Homo sapiens: one gene and its partner. The protein of the gene in region 1 purifies or fractionates together with the protein of each later gene. This does not show direct contact. Each region holds a gene or a part of one and is shown on either strand. Other genes may lie near its edges.

Evidence for each region. Proteins that work in one complex are often made in the same cells at the same time.
Region 2: the proteins of CSK (region 1) and TNS2 purify together in Homo sapiens (affinity purification with mass spectrometry; 6 studies listed by BioGRID and IntAct, with this or other methods). This does not show direct contact.

What each region holds. Positions count from the first base shown.
Region 1 is NC_000015.10:74,778,141-74,785,082, reverse strand, and holds the start of CSK (tyrosine-protein kinase CSK), read right to left. Parts: upstream 3,004-6,942; 5' UTR 2,363-3,003; intron 649-2,362; exon of another isoform or gene 560-648; intron 1-559. UniProt on the Homo sapiens protein: Non-receptor tyrosine-protein kinase that plays an important role in the regulation of cell growth, differentiation, migration and immune response.
Region 2 is NC_000012.12:53,053,059-53,060,103, reverse strand, and holds part of TNS2 (tensin-2), read right to left. Parts: intron 6,709-7,045; exon of another isoform or gene 6,694-6,708; coding exon 6,655-6,693; exon of another isoform or gene 6,530-6,654; intron 6,331-6,529; coding exon 6,292-6,330; intron 6,140-6,291; coding exon 6,090-6,139; intron 5,835-6,089; coding exon 5,663-5,834; intron 4,919-5,662; coding exon 4,868-4,918; intron 4,537-4,867; coding exon 4,414-4,536; intron 4,324-4,413; coding exon 4,259-4,323; intron 3,161-4,258; exon of another isoform or gene 3,092-3,160; coding exon 3,008-3,091; intron 2,538-3,007; coding exon 2,425-2,537; intron 2,332-2,424; coding exon 2,271-2,331; intron 2,078-2,270; coding exon 2,002-2,077; intron 1,789-2,001; coding exon 1,659-1,788; intron 1,533-1,658; coding exon 1,467-1,532; intron 1,391-1,466; coding exon 1,277-1,390; coding exon of another isoform or gene 1,250-1,276; intron 1,058-1,249; coding exon 1-1,057. UniProt on the Homo sapiens protein: Tyrosine-protein phosphatase which regulates cell motility, proliferation and muscle-response to insulin. Phosphatase activity is mediated by binding to phosphatidylinositol-3,4,5-triphosphate (PtdIns(3,4,5)P3) via the SH2 domain.

The DNA of each region.
Region 1 (6,942 bases):
ATTTCCTGTAGCGCTGTTTTGTTATTTTCTAAATCAAGAAAATGAGTACATTCATGGTTTCCCTATAATGAGCTCAGATTCACTTCCCTGGGACCCACCTGCTCCCTAGCTCTGGCCCACGTGTCTGGGACAATTTCTGCCATGGGATGCCTTTCTCATTTGGGACAGTCCCTCAGACATATGAGAATCTGTCCCTACTTTCTCTTTCCCAGACTCAGTCAACATCCCTGGCTCTTTGAAGATGACCTGTCAAGGTTTTAAAATCCTTCAAAAGATGGAGCCCAGAACCGCACCCAGGTGGGTCTGCCCCCTTTGGGGGGCAGCCATGTCACACTGTGGATCCTGGGTCTCAACCCCTACCTATACTTGTTTGGAGGAAGCTGCATTCTGTCCCCGAAATTTCCAACCCTTGCCGAGGGCCACTCTGTGTGGCTCAGCCTTTTGGGGTCTGGCCCCCCTGCGGTGGTGAATGGGAACATTTTCTGCTTTTTCCTTGCCCCTGACCCAATGCAGAGAGAAGAGCAGCTGCTTCTGAGAGGGTGGAGGGCACCAAGCTCACCAATGAAAAGCACATCCCTGCACACGTGCCAGCCAGAAGCCAGACTCCTTTCTTCAAAGGCCCTGGGACCCTGGATCACACCTTCACAGCTCACAGTTGGTAAAAAAATAAAATAAAATAAAATAAAAATTAAAAAGGCTGACTGGGGTGGGAGGGAGCTAACCATGTCAGGCTCCAGCCCCAGTCCCTCAGGCTGGAAAGGAAGTTAGGGCTGGGTGTGGGGCCATGTGAGGGGAGTCTCACAGGCCCAGGACATCTGGGTCCCCTCCACTGTGCATGTCAGGACAGCCAGAAAAAAAAGTGAAAAAACAAAAAAACCCTAAATCGTGAGCAGGGACCCAGCAGGACAAAACTGCCAGCAGCTCCAAGGGAGCCCAGACACTGCTCAGCACCCACCAGGGCAATGCCTGCTCTCCTGGGCCAGAGGATCCTGCCAGGCCTCAACCTCACCCCTGCTGTCCTTGCCCTGTTCCTGCTGTGGCCACAACCAAGAAAGACACTGGAACCGCCAGGGTACTAGGAGCTTGAAACAGGCCCCCTGGGTGTCCCCACTCTCACAATGCTCCCATGTCCCCAGTCTGTAGCCTGCTGCCAGTGGAGACAGAGCTTCCACGGTTCCCATGTGACCCCATTTATATCCTGAACTTGGCTGCTCCTGTGCCAGCTGGGCCATAGGTGTGGCGAGTGCTGGGTCAGGACTGACCACCAGGTTGTTTCAACTCAGAGCCGGGGCCAGGACCGGACCTTCCTGCCACACCACACAGATGGCCATACACCACACATTCCCCACATCTCCTGCTAGCTGACCCAGCCACAGCTGGAGCCGGAAGCCCTTTCACTCCCTCCAGCCCTCTGCAGGGAAGCACGTGCTCAACCAACAAGGTCCCTCTGGGGCCGGGCTGGGGGCCTGTGTCCCCAGTGGGTGAAGGTGCCTGCCTGGTTTCCTTCCACCCACAGCCATCCAGCCCTGTATAGCTGGGGATGAAAGGACAGCCAGCCTAACTCCACTAGAGGCCTGGGGTAGCAACTTCTCCCTTTGAGCCTCGGTTCCCGGGTGTACAAAATGGGCGGGGAAGTGAACTGGTAGTTAAGCTCCAAAAAATCTGCTGGCTGGACACACCCCTTCCTGACACCTGGTCTGGGCCACAAAGAGCCTAGGAGAATGGGCTGCCCAGGGTGCCAGAAGGTGGGGGCATGGTGCTAATGCTCCGTTACCTCCCCCCGGGCAGAAGGCCTGCCCAGTTTCCCACCCAAAGATCCCTTGGCTTAGGCCTGGTCTTCTGAGAGGCCAAGGGTGACAGGCTCAGTCCTAGGACCTGGGCTTCTAACTGCTCACCCGAGGTGGCTGGGCCCTGGGCTTGCTTGCAGCCCGCAGGGTCATGGTGGGGTAATGAGGGAGGGGTCAGAACCAAGCAAGCCAGGGCACCTGCGGGGAGGCCCTGTACAGGGAAGGGCAGGGGAGTCCAGCACTCTCTCTAGGGACCTGGCCCATACGGATCCTCTTCCTCCAGACTCCAGCCACCTCCTACTCTGAGCTCCACAGAGGGGGGGACTCGGGATGACCCGAGAAGACGAGTCCGTGGAGCTGCAGGGCAGTACCTCCCTCATGCACTCCCTTCCAATTTGGGTTCTGACAGTGGCTCCTGGGAGAATTCGAACCCGTGCAAGGGAGTAAAGGAGAGAAGGGAGAAGTGGGAGAAGAGGGGAATGGGAGTGGACGCGACAGTGGCAGCAACAGAGACTAGACGCGCGACCTCCACCCTCTTCCCTCCAGGGGACACTCCGGGACGGCCAGGCACTCACCTCTCTTGGGGCACTGCGGTCCGGGCCACCTCGCCGCGGGCGGCATCAGCGGCCTGCGGGACGGTCCATGCGGTCAGGGGGGAGGGGAGGGGCGCAGGGGTCCCCAGGGGGTGCGGTACAAAGAGGTATGGGTGCAAGGAGAGGGGAGGAGGGACCGCCAGGCAGAGGCAGGGGGACGGACGCACGGCCCGGGTCGCGGAGGGAAGAAAGGCGGGGGAAGGGGGCGGGAGGGAGTCGGGGGGAGGAAACAATGTAGCCGGCGCGGCCCCGGCAGAGTTCCGCTTCCGAGCGCCGCCACTGAGGTTCGATTTTGGAACGTCGCGCTGGCTGCCGGGGGCCGCCCCGGACGCTCGATCGGGGCCGCGGGGCTCCTCGCGCTCCACGCCCCGCGGGCTCCGGCGGCCAGAGGCTGGCTGGGGCGGGAGGGACGGCGGGCCGGGTTACGGCCCCGACGGCGGCGCAGCCGGGCGGTCGCCCGGCTCGGACCCCACCCCGGCAGAAGCCCCCGGGCAAGGCGCGGGTGGGGCAGGAGCGGGAGGGCGGCAGCGGGCTCGGCGGCGGCGGCGGCCAACCTCGGCTCGCCCAGGGCTCCGCTGGGAGGAAGCTCGCAGGCCTGGCGAGAGGAAGCGCGGCCCGGATCCTCCGCCCGCGGCAGCGCGCCTGCGCGAGGGGGCCTGCCCGGCGCGCGGCGGGGCGTGGGCCGGCGGGGCGGCGCCCCCTGCCGGGCGCCGGGGGCACTGCGGGGGGTGTGTCCGCGCCCACGCCCTGCCCCCACTTGCCGCCTGGCTGCGTTGAAGGCTCCGAGGGTCTCTCCTCAGCCGGCCTGGGAGCAACCTCCCAGCCTTCTCTGGACGCAGCTTTCCCGCTGCAGAAGCGCTGGGGGCCGGGCCTGGGCCCCTCTCCTCAGGTCTGTTTGTGGAGAGTGGGCCTGATTCGCAGCAGAAAGCCTTCATTCATTCATTCACCAACATTTCCTGGCGCTGACATCGTGGCGGAGCCTGCTCTGGAGTCTATTGGCAAGACCATTTCACTACCGTCAAGGCGTTCTCGGTCGGGTGGGGGTAGGCTGACAGGCCGACAGACAACGGCAAGGAAATAATTGATCAAAGTGGAGAGGTGGTGGACACGGTTCCCAGGAGGCAGAAAGAAAACTAGGGCTAACGGGGAGACCTCACACCTCACAGAGCCGGGACCAGGCAGAGGGAACAGCATGCACAAGGGCGGGGAGTGCGGAGGGAGCTTGGTGGCTTCTGGGATCTAAATATAGCTCAGGCGGCTGCCGCTTGCAGTGTGGGTGGGGGAGAGTGGTGGGAGATGGGTTCCTGCAAACAACAGGGGCAAAAGAGATCCAAAGAGCCTCATGGGACTTTCTTGGAGTTTATGTTCAGCCTGGAGGCAATAAAGAAGTTGTCAGCAGCTCTGTGACCTTGGGCAAGTTACTTAACCTCTCTGTGCTTTAGTTTCCCCATTTGGTAAAATAGGTGATATATAATGGCACCGACTTCTTAAGTTTTTGTGGGGAGGGGAGGAAATGAGTTAATACGTTTAAAGTGCTTAGTATGCAGTAGCTGGCACGTGAGGAGCCCTCCGTTAAGCAAGGGCTGTTACATCACTGTTAACGAAAAGCAGGGAGATGACCTGCTCTGAGCCACAGGAGAGGACAGCGTGCTCAGGCATGACAGGGGTGGGAGAGTGCAGGGTGGCGGGGGAACAGAATGGGGATGCAGTGATGAGGGTGAGACCGGGGAACAGAATGGGGATACAGTGATGAGGGCGAGACCAGAGACTCCAGCGTAGGGAGGAGGTAAAGGTGGGGGACTTTCTAGGGACTAGACCCTGAAGCAAGGGTCAGGCTTGGGTGGACAGAGGGAAGAGGCACTCTTGGGGTTGGGGGGGAGGAAGTGGGGCATGCTGACAAAGTCTTGGAACACAAAATAAGCATGAAGAGGCCCGAGGGAGCGAGAAGAGGGCAAACAGCCCTGTGGGAGACGGAGCTGGGAGACAGTGTGGCTGCAGATTGTTTTAAAGAGCCTCGGATGCCAGGAGGAGTTGCCCCCAAAACCACAGGTCGGCCCTCTGACCCAGGGCACCCTTAGGCCGGTTTCCCAGCTGGAGCCAGCCCTTTGGAGAGGGATGTCCTTTGAGGAGACAGCCAGTAAGTTTCAGAGATAGGTGTGGTGTAACAGAAAAAAGATGAATTTGGGGTTCAAGTCTCCAAGTTAAATTTCAACCCGTCCACTTACTAGCTGTGTGACTTAGGGCTAGTTACCTAAGGTCTCTGAGCTGTTTCCTCTTTTGTAAGATCAGGCTCAAAATATACTTCTCTCATGATAGATAGTGCAGATTCAGCAAGATAACGGCCTGGGGGTGAGGGAGTGGAAAGGGTGCTCAGCAGAGCTGGTTTCCCTTTCTTTCCTCTGAGGTCAAGATGGAATGATAATATGGGGCCGGATGGGGGGCCGCCTCTCAGCCTACAAGAAAGCACTTCAGCAGCTCTGCAAAGCCTTCTGGGAGGGAGAAATTGACATCTCCCCTCCCCTGGCTGAATCAGCTAGCAGAATGGGAAAGAAAAGACTGGGGATTTGGGGAAAATACTCTAATCCCTGTTCCAGTTTTGTCACCAACCTTTCTTTATCCCCAAATGCACTTGACTTTTTCCCCTGGGTGTGCTGTGGCCCAGCTGTGAACTTTGGAGTCAAATAGACCAGCATTTGAATCCTGGCTCCACCTCTTCTCAGCAAAGTGAAATAAATTTTTTAATCTTCCTGTACTCCAGGCACTGGGGATAAAACCATAAACAAATCGATAAAGGGCCCCACTCCCACAGACCTGTCCTCTGGTGGAATTATTGGGCTGGGCGCCGTGGCTCACACCTATAATCCCAGCACTTTGGGAGGCCGAAGCAGGCAGATCACAAGGTCAGGAGATCGAGACCATCCTGGCTAACATGGTGAAACCCTGTCTCTACTAAAAATACAAAAAATTAGCTGGGCGTGGTGGCGGGTGCCTGTAGTCCCAGCTACTGGGGAGGCTGAAGCAGAAGAATGGTGTGAACCCAGGAGGCGGAGCTTGCAGTGAGCCGAGATCACGCCACGGCACTCCAGCTTGGGCAATAGAGCGAGACTCTGTCTCAAAAAAACAAAACAAAACAAAACAAAACAAAAAAACAAATGCTTATTGAGCACCTACTAAGTGCTAGGTGGGAAGTGCTAATTAGGGAAAGGGAATCTGGTCGGTGGGAGCAAGGGAAAGCAAAAAGAGAAATTAGATAAGCTGTGAGTCTGCCTTTCTTCATGTCTAGGACATATAGCTCTCCTGTGCAAATAATTCACAATCTTCCTGTGCCCGACTATCACCAGACTCCTGCAAGTTAGCTCACTGTACCCTTGGCAAGTTAGCTCACTGTACCCTTGGCGTTTGATACTGCACAAAAACCTCCTCAACAGATAGCATAACACTAATTCTATAAAATCTCCAACAACCTTTTGTTTCCTGGCAGTCAGCTTCTCTTCTGCCTTCTTGCAATGTATTTTCCTACTTTTTCTAATAAATCTGCCTTTATCTACAACTGTCTTAGTAAGTTTTTGTTTTGTTTTGTTTTGTTTTTTGTTTGTTTGTTTTGAGACGGAGTCTTGTTCTGTTGCCCAGGCTGGAGTGCAGTGGCATGATCTCGGCTCACCACAACCTCCCGCTCTGGCATTCAACCATTCTTCTGTCTCAGCCTCCCACGTAGCTGGTACTATAGGTGTGTGCCACCATGTTCAGCTAATTTTTGTGTTTTTAGTAGCGATGGTTTTCACCATGTTGGCCAGGCTGGGCTCAAACTCCTGACCTCAAATAATCCACCCACCTTGGCCTCCCAAAGTGCTGGGATTACGGGCGATAGCCACCACGCCCCAGGCCAGTGTTGGAGGAGTGGGGGAGGGTATTGCAGGTGGGGAGGAAGATAGTGAAAGACCCTGAGGCACAGAAAGCCTCAGTGGCTCAAGGGACAGCCAGAAGGCCAAGGTGATGAGACCGGCAAGCAGGGGAGAGTGGTGTTTGAGGAAGGGACAGATTCTATAGGGTGTTGTGGGCCAGAGATTTTTATTACAGGAGTTTAGGTTTTATCATATGAGCAATGGGGAGCCATTGAAAGATGTTTATAAGCAGGGTAGTGATATGATAAAGAGTGAAGGTCGGCTGGGCCCTGTGGCTCTCGCCTGTGATCCCAGCACTTTGGGAAGCTGAGGCAAGAGGATCACTTGAGGCCAGGAGTTTGAGACCAGCCTGGGCAACAGAGCAAGACCCTGTCTCTACAAAAAAAAAATTTCTAATTAGCTAGGCATGGTGGTGTGTGCTGGTAGCTAGCAATCTTCCCATCTCAGCCAGGCTGAGGTGGGAGGATCACTTAGGGTGGGAAGATGGAGGCTGCAGTGAGCCACTGAACTTCAGCCTGTGCAACAGAGTGAGACCCTGACTCCAGAAAAAAAAAAAAAAAAAGTTAAGGTCAAAGGTCAAAGCCCTAGTGAGGAGGCTGTTGCATGGCCTGGACCAGGGCTGACGGGTCTAGCCCTGGTGGAAGCAGCGGGATAGGGAAG
Region 2 (7,045 bases), on another chromosome or scaffold:
GGGCTGGGATACCCTCTGCCCTCTCCTGGAGAGCCACAGCTATGAGGCACACGGCCATATGCTGGGCAGTAACTGGGAACTGCTCCTCCATAGCTGTATGTCACCAGGGCAGGGTACCCTGGATGCCCATACCTGCCTTCGGGGCACATGGTGTAGGAGCAGCCCTCGTGCCCTTCCTCGCCTGCCTTGGGTGGCTTCAGGCAGCTGTAGTCAGGCATCGGGGCATGGTGATGCCCACAGGCAGGCAAGAGCAGAGGCAGCGGGTGCCCAGGCCGCACTGGGTGCAGGAGAGGCTTGCCAGCCTCACTTGCCCACCCTTCTCCAGCCTCCCTCTCCAGCCGCAGTCCATACAAGGCTGCTGTAGGCAGCGCCAGCTTCTCCTCGCAGGCTGGGCATGGGTATAGGGCAGGCAGCCCAGGGTCCTCCAGGATGACCACCTCCCGGTAGCCTGGGGCGCGGTAGCCAAAGTCCCCAGTGGCTGGTTTCCCCATCTCAGGTGGGTAGGGGTATAGCCCCTCTGACAGCGATCGGCAGAGGCGCCTCTTCTCCATCGAGGCCTCGGCGTAGCCCTGGGGGGATCCCTCATAGCCCCCGTAGGCCAGTCGCCTCCTCTCCAGGGTTCCCTCTGGCCGGTAGTAGCCCCCATTGGGAACCCCGCAGGGCTCCCGGTAGCCCTGGCGGCAGGAGCAGTGGCGGCTGAGGCCAGGCCTATGGCCTGGATACACTCCGAGGTGGGGGCCTCCGCCCACAGTGGGCTGCTCTTCGTCATCTAGGATGGCCGTCTCGCGCCCAGCTCCCCGGCCCCCACTGGCCACTCCGCAGCCTCCTAGGAGGCGATCCAGCTCCTGCCGTTCAGCAGCTGTAGGGGGCGGCCGGCCAGGGGACTCAGCAGCCGGCTCTGTGGTCAGCGTGGAGGAATGGCCTGAGTCGCTGCTGACAGAGAGCATGGGGGGTGGTGGAGGCTCTGGAGAGGGTGCCGGGGGGGTCTGCCGGGGAGGCCGCTGCACCTGGGCATAAGGACTGCCATCCAGGGGACCCCGGGTGTGGGTCAAGGAGCCTGAGTGGGGAAGAGGATCAGGGAGGGAGGGCAAGCGGGGAACAGGGAGGGAGAGAGAAAATTCATGAGAGGGGATGGCACTGGAGACAGCTGTCGGGCCGGGGGTGTCTCTCGGGAGTGGGCTCTGCCTGGGGAGGAGGGAGTGTGCTTCTCCCTGGCACCACCCCCCAGGGTCCCGCCACAACCCTGTACCTCCCACCCTGCAGGCTGCCTGCGCACCATCCACACTGTCCTCGTGGTGCTGGTTGAAGTTCTCATAGGAGTCCCAGCGCACGGCTGGCTCAGTGGTGTTGTAGTCGACAGAGACCGAGGGGTCGTTCCGTGGAGTGCTGCCTGTGGAAGGCCACTCGGGTATTGGGGAGCAGGGGAGAGGCGGCCCTCAGTCCCCAGCCCATGTCCCTGCTCTTACCTTTGATCTTCTCGGGGCTGGAGGAGAAGACAAACTCCACGGAGGCTTGGAAGGGGAACCTCTCATCTATGGGGAGTGGACAGTGAAGAACCAGGCCCCTGGCCCATACCACACTCTCCTGCCTGCCTGCCACCTGCCTGCCACCTGCCTGCCACCTGGACTCCAGCCCCAGGCCACTTGTCTCAGACTCACCAGTCCAGGCCTCGTCAAGCTGGTCCTTGGGGAAAGTGAGCTGTGGTCCGTGGATGGTGCAGGTGTGGAACTGGACTCGGAACACGAGGGTCCGGTCTGTGCCCCGGCCACCCTTGTGATAACATGTTACCTGGGAGAAAGGCAGGAGGCTGCGGATCAGGCCTCATGTCCTCTTCTGCGCTTCCACCCTGGGGACTGCCTGGTCACAGCTTCTGCCCTGCCTCGATCTCAAGGTGATCTCCCTACTCGCTCTCCAATCTGTCTCAAATTGGTGACTGTGCCGTTACACCACCAACCCCTGCCCCATCTCCAGGATTCTTCTTGTTGACAGGACCCCCCTCACCATGACATCGCCTTTGAGGAGGAGGGCTGGCTCCAGGCTGATGCAAAGCTGCTGGGGACCAGGGCCTGCAATGTGACTGTGGGGAGAGAGGAGAAGGCAGAGATGAACCAGAAGCTCCTGCGTGCAGAGGCAGCTATGCAGTCAGGGGGAGCCAGGAGACCAGAGTCTGAGCCCTGCCCAGGTGTCTAGGGAGGCTGGAGAAGCAGGAATGCAGGAGCAAGAGGGGCCCTGGTCATGAAGTGTCAGGGGCCTGGGAATAGAGCACTCACTAGACTCCAGATGTGTAGACAAGCTGCATGGACTGGTAGATTTTAAGGAAGGGCTGGAAGCCTGGAGGGGCAGAGGAGAAGGCACAGGAGGGGTGCTGAGTGGAGAGGGCCTGAAGGTGGTTCTCCCTAGGGAGCACATCTCAGGCAGACTCACCTGTGCCAGGTTCAAAGGCTGGCAGCATGGGGATGAGCACATAGTGCAGGAAGAGAGGGCTGCTGTTCATTCTGATGGAGCCAGATAGCAGCCCACTGAAGTAGCTGATATATCTGGTGGAGGGCGTGTCAAGGAGAACATAAGCCTTTTCCTCTGGAGGTCACCTTGTATCATTTCAACCATCCACCCTTAGAAGGCTCGCTCTTCTGCTCAACACTTCCTTCCCATCTTCCGGGTCACCAGAAAGTTCTTCCTTGCATCTAACCTCAATCCCTCCTGCTCCCCTCTGCCTCAAAGCTCTTTCCCCAGAGCTCTGCTTCACTTTATAGTGGCAGGCCCTGACTGTCCTTCAGGTTCTCTTTATGACTGATCTCCTCGTCTATTTATTCCCAGGTCTACTGCCTTCCACCCTACTAGCATGAAAGCTCCATGAGAGCAGGGGCTTTGTCCACTTTGAATTCTCAGCACCTGGCACGGCGCTTGGCACACTCAGTGAAAGTGTGCTGCATGAATAAGAGAGTCTTGGCCTTGGTAGCCATGAAGGGAGCTGCTCCTCTGGCCCATCCCCACCCAGGCTGCTCACCGACGCTGGGAGGGCTGCAGTTCTGTGGCCACCTTGTCCTCGCAGAATTTCCGCATGGTAAGAGTGGCCAGTGCCTGGTCCGCCCTGGGGATAGCAAGGCCAGTGTTGGGGATTAGGGATTAATCTTCATCCTGGCCTCCCATCCCTAAGCCCCAGGGGATGGAGGAGAAATATGATTCTCTAAGTCTAGAAGAAGCCCAGAGTAGTGGTAATGAGAATGAGAAGCACCATGTACAGTCACTTTACTAGTTGTTGGGCCTCAGGCAATTGTTCCCTGAACTTTAGTTTTTTCATCTGTAAAACAGGGCAACAAAACCATCTTATGGGTTGAATTATATCCCCCCAAAAGACATGTACCTCAGAATGTGACCTTATTTGGAAATAGGGCCGTTGCAGACATAATTAGTTAAGATGAGACCATACTGAAGGAGGGTGGACCCTGAATCCAATATGATTGGTGTCCTTATAAGAAGAGAGGAAGAGACACAGACAGAGACACACAGGGAGAACACCATGTGATGACAGAGGCAGCGATTACAGTGATGTGTCTGCAAACCAAGGAATGCCAAGGCTTGCCGCCCACCACTGGAAGCTAGAAAGAGACAAGGAAGGATTCCATCCCGAGTCTCAGATGGAGCAAGGGCCTGCTGACAGCTTGGTTTGGGGCTTCTGGCCTCCAGAACTGTGAGAGAGTACATTTCCACTGTTTTTTGTTTTGTTTTGTTTTTGTTTTTTTTGAGACGGAGTCTGACTCTGTCACCCAGGCTGGAGTACAGTGGCACCGTGTGGGCTCACTGCAACCTCCGTCTCCTGGGTTCAAGCAATTCTCCTGCCTCAGCCTCCTGAGTAGCTGGGATTACAGGCGCCCACCACCACGCCCGGCTAATTTTTATATTTTTATATTTTTGGTAGAGATGGGGTTTCACCTGGCCAGGCTAGTTTCAAACTCCTGACCTCAGGTGACCTGCCCACCTCAGCCTCCCAAAGTGCTGGTATTACAGGCGTGAGCCAACGCACCCGGCCCATTTCCACTGTTTTACACCACCCTGTTTGTGGCTGCCCCAGGAAACTCTACAGACCATCTGCTGCAGACTATGTTGCAGTACTAGTGATAAAAGGGAGGTGGAAGTGCTAAGCTGACAGCAAAGGACTCTCAACGAAGAGGTGGGCTCCAGGGGAGATGGGTTCCTAAGGGGCCAGCTGGAGAAAGGGCCACTGGGGAAGCAGCTACTCAGGCGCTGGGAGCCTCACCCTGCAGAGATCTTGCTGTAGTGCATGTAGGCAGAAACGATGACCCCAAGCTTGCCCTTGTTTCCCTGACAGACAGAGAGACAGGGATGAGGGTCTGGGAGCTCCAGGCTGACCTGGAACCTCCAGGCACCAGGGAACCCGAGGTCCTGGCCCACCTTGCAGTATAGTACGACCACGTGCTGTGGGTCAGCACTGAGCCATGTCTCCATGGCTTTGCAGATGGAGCACAGCTTGTCCAGGGGTGGAGCATGCAGCTCAGGCCAGCCGAAGTCTTGAACCTGGGGAGAATGCAGGGGTGCAACTGGGGCCGGGGGCCACCAACAGAGAGAGATGGGCAGGGTGGAAAGGGGACAGGGCATAGGGGTCCGGGGGCAAGGCTGGGGGTCTGCTGGTTGTCCATGATAGCCTCGGCACTTTCCTTATCCATACAATGGGCTGATACCTGCTGCATCACGTTTTGGGGTGTCTCCAGTAATATATCATGGGAGAGTGGGAAAGTGCTTAAGAGTGAAGTAGATGCCAATTGCTACTATTAATAACGAGGAAGCTGGGGGCTTCTGGGGTTGGGGTGGCTTGGTTTAATGGTTGGGCAGGCCATTTCCTTCATACCTTGGGGTTTAAGCGGGTCAGGTCATGCCTTTTCTCTGAAAGGTTGAAGAGCTGAAATAAAGGGGGAGGGCTTTAGACAGAAATGATCTCCGGCAATGAGGCACGAGGTGGAGGTGGATCCTAAGTAAGAATCTTCCTCTAAAATAAGGTGCAGGCCGGTCGCAGTAACTCACGCCTATAACCCCAGCACTTTGGGAGACCAAGGCGGGCGGGTCACCTGAGGTCAGGAGTTCGAGACCAGCCTGGCCAACATGGTGAAACCTCATCTCTACTAAAATTACAACAATTTGCCGGGTGTGGATCGCTTGAGCCCTGGAGTCTTGAGACCAGCCTGGCCAACATGGCGAAACCCCGTCTCTACAAAAAATACAAAAAAAAAAAAAAAAAAAAAAAAAAATTGGCTGGGCGTGAGTGACGCACGCCTGTAATCCTAGCTACTGAGGCTGAGGTGGGAGAATCGCTTGAGCCCGGGTGGAGGAGGTTGCAGTGAGGTGAGATCGTGCCACTGCACTCCAGCCTGGGCAACAAAGTGAGACCCCGTCTCAAAAAAAAGGTAAATAAATAAAGAAAATAAAAAGGTAGCTAAGGCCCGGCCTAGCCAGTCACAGCCAAGTCGCCAGCGTTCCAGGATTCTCCGCTCCGCTCCAGGCCGCGCTCCGGGCCCCGCCCCCACCCCACCACTCTGGTCCCGCCCCCTGGCGGCCTCGCCTCCGCTGGTGACGTCAGTGATTAGCCTCGCCCATCTGGACCCTACATCCCTCTCATTGGCGGACTCCTGATGGCCCCGCCCCTCACCAGGTACTTGTCCCGGTGCTTGGATTGCAGCACATGGGCCAGCTCGCGCAGGTGGCCCCGGTGCCGCTGTTCATCGGGCCGCGCGGGGAAGGCGGCGGCCAAGATGCGCTCCGTCACGTAGGTGAGGTCTAAGTCCCAGCGCCGCTCCATGAGCGGGTCCAGGCTGAAGCTCCTGGGGAGGAGGAGCCTACGCATGAACGCAGGGGCGGGGCACCCGGAGGTGGCTAGTGTGACGGGAAGGCTGTCTGTTGGGCAGCAGGTGAAGCCTGCTGGGTCCTGAGGGTGGGTGGATCGGTCTGGAGGGAGAATACCGCTTTGGGGGTGGGGGGCTGTCCCGGGGAGCTCTGTTGCGGGGCAGTGCCCTGGGCTGAGGTGTGGGGCCGGCGGAAAGGGGGTCACGTGGGACCACCCCAGCACCCTCACTTACCTGGGCAGAGTGCTGCGCTGCTTTGAGTGGTTCAGAGATTTGGTGGATCCCTGGTGGTTAACAGACAGTGTCTAGACATCTCTTTGGGTACCCCCTACTCTAGACTGCCCACTCCAGAGCCATGCCCTTTTTGTCTTCAGGAAATCTAGATCCTTACTCCCAAAGCTACCTGCTTCCCCCTCCTGCTCCAGCATCACCTTACCAGGTGCTCTATGCGCCTGACTGGGGCCGTGTTTCGCCGCTAGAGGGAGATGGGGGAGGAAAAGGGAGTGGTTAGTTACAGCAGGGGCAAGGACCAATGTGGGCCTTGGGGACAGGGGAAGGGAATGTCAGTGTCCTTTTGAAGGCTGTACTGGATAAGGGGAGAGGAGTCCTACCCCCAGCAGGCCCAAGGGCACAAGATCAGCAGAGGACTCAGACAGTTTTTTCTTTCCTCATAGGATGAGCAATACCCACAGCACTCCGTTCAAGGTCATCTCCTGGGGGCCCTCTCTGGAGCCACCAGACCTCTGGACACCATGGCCAGGTTCCTTGCCCTCCCCACCCCATCCCAGAGCGCACTCACCAACTCCACGGGAGGCAAGGCCTGACAGGCTGAAGTCACCTGGAAGGGGACCGAGTAAGGAACTGAGCTCCTGGTGAAGGGCTCTCGTGGGCTTGAGGATGGGGCAGCCCCTCAGCTTCAGGAGGAAGGTGGAGGGGCCTTCAGTGGATGGGCACAGGCTCCAGCTGAGGTTGCGCTATTTAAGGGCACCTCCCCTCTGGCCTCTTGGTCCCCCACCCCCCAGGCCCCCCACTTGTTGCTCTTGGCGCTCAGCCCCCAGCCCACACAGACCCCCATTCATCCAGCTGTAGGGCAGGAGTTATATATAGAGCCAAGCAGGCAGGCCATGGCCAGGGATGGACACTGGCTTCTTTCACCGGGAGACCCCGCCCCTGGGCACACAGCTCCCCCA